Regions from separate parts of the Homo sapiens genome. Here region 1 is linked to region 2. A link means that fine-mapping ties the variant in region 2 to the expression of a gene that starts in the linked region. Tissue or cell type: whole blood. Region 2 holds a variant in brackets; the other region holds the start of a gene. All regions are shown on one strand. Distances are from middle to middle.

The links. PIP is the estimated chance that this variant, and not a neighbour inherited with it, causes the effect.
Region 1: SPACA6 starts here. The variant in region 2 is fine-mapped to the expression of SPACA6 in whole blood (INTERVAL, PIP 0.96).

What each region holds. Positions count from the first base shown.
Region 1 is chr19:51,691,713-51,694,328 of GRCh38, reverse strand. It overlaps SPACA6 (sperm acrosome associated 6), which reads right to left and starts at 999. Exons shown (of 9, transcript NM_001316972.2): 1 at 589-999. The coding sequence starts at 802. It overlaps SPACA6-AS1 (SPACA6 antisense RNA 1), which reads left to right and starts at 873. Exons shown (of 2, transcript NR_108100.1): 1 at 873-1,695. MIR99B (microRNA 99b) reads right to left here and starts at 1,717; the gene lies at 1,648-1,717. It overlaps MIRLET7E (microRNA let-7e), which reads right to left and starts at 1,543; the gene lies at 1,465-1,543. It also overlaps MIR125A.
Region 2 is chr19:51,138,354-51,141,111 of GRCh38, reverse strand. It overlaps LOC124904749 (a long non-coding RNA gene), which reads left to right and starts at 602. Exons shown (of 3, transcript XR_007067310.1): 1 at 602-688; 2 at 2,286-2,327. The variant C/A (reference allele first, on the strand shown) is at 1,585.

The sequences.
Region 1 (2,616 bases), 550 kb before region 2:
GAGTCCCTCCCAAGTCTCTATCCTCCCTGAGTCTCTGCCCCCGACCAGTCGCTATCCTGCTTCCCCTAGTCTCTGCCTCATCTCTGTCCTCCTCTCTCTGGGTTTCCATCCTCTTTGAGTCTCCATCTTCCACCCTCTGAGTCTCCATCCTCCCCTCTCTGGGTCTCTATTCCCTCTCCAGTCTCCAACCTCTCCTGACTCTCCATCCTCCCCTTTCTATGAGTCTCCATCCTCCTGACTCTCCATCCTCCCGAGTGTCCATCCTCCCCTCTCTGACTCTCCATACTCCTGAGTCTCCATCTTTCCGAGTCTCCATCTTCCTCTCTCTCTGAGTCTCCATCCTCCCCCTCTCTGAGTCTCCATCTTCCCCTCTCTGACTCTCCATCCTCCCCTCTCTGAGTCTTTGCCCTGCTGTCTTCCCCTGTCTGTGTCTCTCTGTCCCTAAGTCTCTGTTGTTCTCATGGTCTTTGAGCCTTTCTCCTCTGACTGTTTCTCTCTGTCTGTCCCTCAGCCTGACCCTCTGGGCCTCTCCTGCCCTCCCTCTGCACCTTCCCCAGGACACTGATGAAGTGTGGATGGTCTCCTCACTGATTTCGGTGTCAGAGAGGCCCTGGAAGGCGGCCGTGAAGGCCTCCTCACACTCTTCAAGCTTGGGGCTCCGCATCCCAACAAACATCTGGCAGATGCGGAGGCGCTCAGAGTAGGTTGTGAAGCAGAGGAGACAGGCCCAGGCGGGCACCCTGAAGACAGCCAGGGCCAGCAGGGCAGACGGGACGGCACTGGCCAGAGCCAGCAGGGCCATCGTGTGGGTCTCAAGGCCAGGGGAGAAGCTAGTAACCTTTATGAAGTCACCACAGGGCGGGGGAAGGGCCAGTGGTCTGGGGTCAGAGGTCAGGTTTCAGTTGGTGGTCAAATGTCATGCTCTGGAGGAAGGGTATGAGGAGTCAGGGGTCAGAAGTCAGGCCAGCAATTCCCCAGGTGTGTGGTTGGGCCAGACGCCAGGCTCCCAAGAACCTCACCTGTGACCCTGGATGTCCTCACAGGTTAAAGGGTCTCAGGGACCTAGAGACTGGCAACATGGTGTGCGGTGGCCCGGTAGACCCTGGGGTGGGGGTCAGAGATGGAGATAGGCACAGAGACATTCTGAGAGCCAGAGACAGAAAGACCAAAAACGACAGAAATAGAGACACAGAGAGATATCGGGAGGGGCAGAGACCTAGAAAGCCAGAATAAGAGGGAGTCAGAGGATCCACTGTGAAAGAGACACAGAAGCCACAGAGACACAGCAGAGATGGAGACAGACAGGGAAGGAAAACAGATTTCAGGGGAAGGAGGGGATGCAGGGACAAGGACAGAAAAGAGCCCGGCTCTTCCTCCCAGGGTCCCTGGGGCAGCCCAGTGGGGCTAAGGGTCCCTGAGTGGGGCTGGGGGTCCCCGCCGGGCCCCGTCCCGTGCAGGGCGCAGCCTGGGGAAAGCTAGGAGGCCGTATAGTGATCTCCTTGGGTGTCCTCCTCAACTATACAACCTCCTACCTCAGCCCGGGGGGCGCGGCAGGTGGACAGACCCGACAGACAGACAGACAGGGACCAGGAGGACCAGGGATGAGGGGGAGGGCCGGGGAGGCCCCAGCCGCGATGGTGAGCCCCCGACACGGACCCACAGACACGAGCTTGTGTGCGGCGAAGGCCCCGCAAGGTCGGTTCTACGGGTGGGTGCCAGGACCCAGGAGTCCGGGCCCCCGGCCCCTCCTCCCCAAGGAACCCAGGAGTCCAGGCCCTCAGCCCCTTCCTCATCAGGGACCCTGGAGTCAAGGCTCTCATCCCCCTCCTCCCTAAAGAACCCAGAAGTCTAGGCCCTTCCTCACCACAGACCCAGGAATCCAGGCCTCTGGCCCTTTTCTCCCCAAATGTTCCTGGAATCCAAGGACTCAGCCCCTTCCTCCCTCAGACTCATGAGTCCAGATCCAAAGCCTCCTTCTCCCCAGAGACCCAGGAGTCCCTGCCCCCAGCCCCTCCTCCCTCCGGCCAGGCAGGCCTCCTGGGGAAGGCATGGCCTGATAGAAAACCTGGCTTCCTGGGTGCCGGCTGGGAGGGAACCTCATTTGTCTCGTAATTTGGCCCTTTGGGCACACCTGCTTCCTACCTACCCTCCTGTCAGTCTGCAGAGACTCCAGGCCCAGGGCTAAGGAGGCCAGGGGCTAGCCAACCATCAGAGCCTCCCTAGGTGCTTTCTTTCCTCTCTCCTCCCTTCTTTGGGTCATTTACAACTATGACAGCCACAATCTCCCAGCGCTGACCCCATACCAGGCCCTGAGCACCAGTCCTCTCCCTGACACCTCCCACTCCAGAGAGCGAGGTGCCCTCAGCATCCCCATTTGGCAGGTGAGGGGGCTGAGCCTCAGAGAGGGGAAGAGGCTCCCAAAGTCTGCCCAGCCCCATCTCTGTCCTCCCTCTTGAATCCAGGAGGTGTCCCCAGCCTTCTCCAGCTTCTGGACCCCGGGACCCAGCACCCACCCTCCCCACCCCTGGGCTCTGAGCCCCTCCAGCTGGGGTCTCTCCCGTGCCCAGCCCCTCCTCCTGGACTGTCTGGTTCTCGCTGCCCCTGCTCCAGGCGCAC
Region 2 (2,758 bases):
ACAAAATAAGCACCCTTGAAGAACTAGAACACAAAAGAACTGTCAAGTCTGTCCCTTGAAATGAAGAAAGAGATTTTATTAATTCATTCACCCTTACATTCCCCTTTCCTATTGGCCATGCCCCCGCTCCCTCCTGAAGGAGCCCCTAGCCTCACTTTAATGATAATAGTCTTCCTGCTGTTCTATGTAGTTTTATCATCGGCACATGCTGCCTTGAAAATTCTAACTTCACGTAGGTTTTCCTGAAGATGTTGTATACATAGAAAATCCCAGTCTGTTTTCTTCCATACAACTGCATTGATCTGCTCAGCCCACACTGTCCCCTAATTGTCCATAACCTAGAGATCATTTGGCTGTAACGATTGAGAGAGGAAGATGCTGGGTTTGGGCGTCCGAAGCCACTCCCCGCCCTCACCTCCAATCCCTGCATTTGCAGCTAGTATCTCATCCTGCAGACCAATCTGCCTCCTGGGCGCCTCCTCCTTGCCCAGCCACTCTCTCCCCATAAGGATATTTGCAGTATCTCAGTGGGCAGAAGTGTTACCGGATGGTGCCATGCAGTTCCAGGCTCTTGGTGTCTTAAACAAAGAATTGGATGAGACACACACAGACAGCAAAGCAAGAAGCAGCAGTTTATTAAGCACAGTATCACACTCTTGGAGAGGGAGAGCGAACTGATCTCTATGAGGTGAGATCAGCATTACTTTGGGTCTTTTTATGTTTGTTTGTTTGTTTTTTTGTTTTTCTTCGCTTCCCAAGGCTGCCAAATCTCTATCCAGTGTCTGCCTTTTTTCGGGGGGAAGGGGTGGTGGTGAGGTGGGGACGAAGTCACCCAAGCTTGAGTGCAGTGGCACAATCTTGGCTCACTGCAACCTCAACCTTTTGGGTTGAAGCGATTCTTCTGCCTCTGCCTCCCTGGTAGCTGGGACTACAGGCGCCCGCCACCATGCCTGGCTAATTTTTGTATTTTTAGTAGAGATGGGGTTTCACCAGGTTGGCCAGGCTGGTCCTGAATTCCTGACCTCAAGTGATCCGCCCACCTTGGCCTCCCAAAGTGCTGGGATTACAGGCGTGAGCCACCGCGCCTGGCCAGTGCCTGCCTTTTTGATGGTTAAGTATGTTGCTTAGTTACTTTGACCCATCCCATAATTTTAAGTACATGGATAATATGCAGTCCATATGCATGAACTTTAATGAGCTGATTATCATACAGGGTCATGTTAAGGATACTTTTTCTCTCTAATGCACATGCATAGCTCTGAAGAACTGCCCCTTACTGGTTTGGTCCAGATCCTGCTGGCCACGGGTGTCCTTGCTCACTTCTCTATCTTACTTTTTGTTTTGGCTGCTCAACTTCTGCCTCTTGCTTCTTGCTCACCCGTCCCCTCACCTTGCTTCTGCTCTCTGCTTTTACTTATTCTGCCCTTTATCCAACTTTTAATTCTCTTTGCTATGCTCCTGCCCCATTGGTCTATGCTCCTCCTGCCTCAGAAGGGCTAGACCATGGCCCATCTCTTTCCCACAGTCCCCAGTTTGCAATTAAAATCAGAAAAAAAAATGGGAAGGAGAGACTTAAGGAAGCCA[C/A]AGAATCTGTAGAAAGGAGGAACTTGTGAACCACATATGACCCAGGGGAGCTGACAAGCCCTCTACTCCCACTTCCACAGTTCGGAGAGGAAGACATCAAGGTCCACAGTGACAAGTGCTATGGTCTGAATATGTCACCTCAAAATTCATTTGTTGAAATTTGAATCCCCATGTGATAGTATTAGAAGGTATAATGATTTGGGAGGCGATTAGGCTATGAGGACTCTGGGATTAGTCTAATGGGATTAGTCCCCTCATCTGAGAGACCCAGGGGAATTTGCACAGCCCTTCCACCACATGAGAACATAAGGAAAAGGCACCATCTATGAGGAAGCAAACTGTCTCCAGACACCAAACCTGCTGGCACCTTGGTCTTGGACTTCTCAGCCTCCAGAACTGTGAGAAATGAATTTCTGTTGTTTATAAACTGGCCAGTTTATGGTATTTTGTTGTAGCAGCATGAATGGACAGAGATAGAAAGCGAATTGCCCAAATCACACAGGTCTCCTGGGCCCTGTCTCCTGCACCAATGTCTGCCCAGGAGCCACTTAATTAATCTTGTCTGCCCAGGACAGACTGGGCTGGGACAGGGGAAGCTGATGTTACTTGGAGAGTGAAAGAACTGTCAAGTCTCTCACATGAGATAAGGAAAGACATTTCATTCATTCATTCATTCATTCATTCATTCGTTCTGTATTCAGATTGTGAGCACCCGTGCTGTGCCTTGAGATTTCCAGCAAAGGGTAAGTGTTTGCCCAATCGCTCCCTCCCAGGAGGGGAAGTTGCAGCATCTCAGTGGTCAGAAGGGCTGAGCCATGGCTGACAGTGATGTCCTGCATCTGTCCCGCAGGGCTGGGTGTCCTCATCTGAGTTCTGTCTTGAGCAGGAGGGGCTCAGTCAGGCCTCTCAGCCCTGCTCCCCTGGGGGCCTCCACACCTGTAGAGCCAACACCGGCCTCAGATTAGCATCGGCCACTTCAATTCTAACTCAGGCGGGACAGGACAGCTCAGCCCCATCTGGAACTCGGGGGCCAATCCCTCGGCTTCCCTAGAAAAGAGCAGCCCTGCTCACCTGGAGTAGTAGCCCCAGGTGAGGCCACGGGTGAAGGAAAAACCAGTGCCCATGAGCGCCCCTTGATTAGGTGAGAACCAGGGGCTGGGAGCCCTCCTGATCT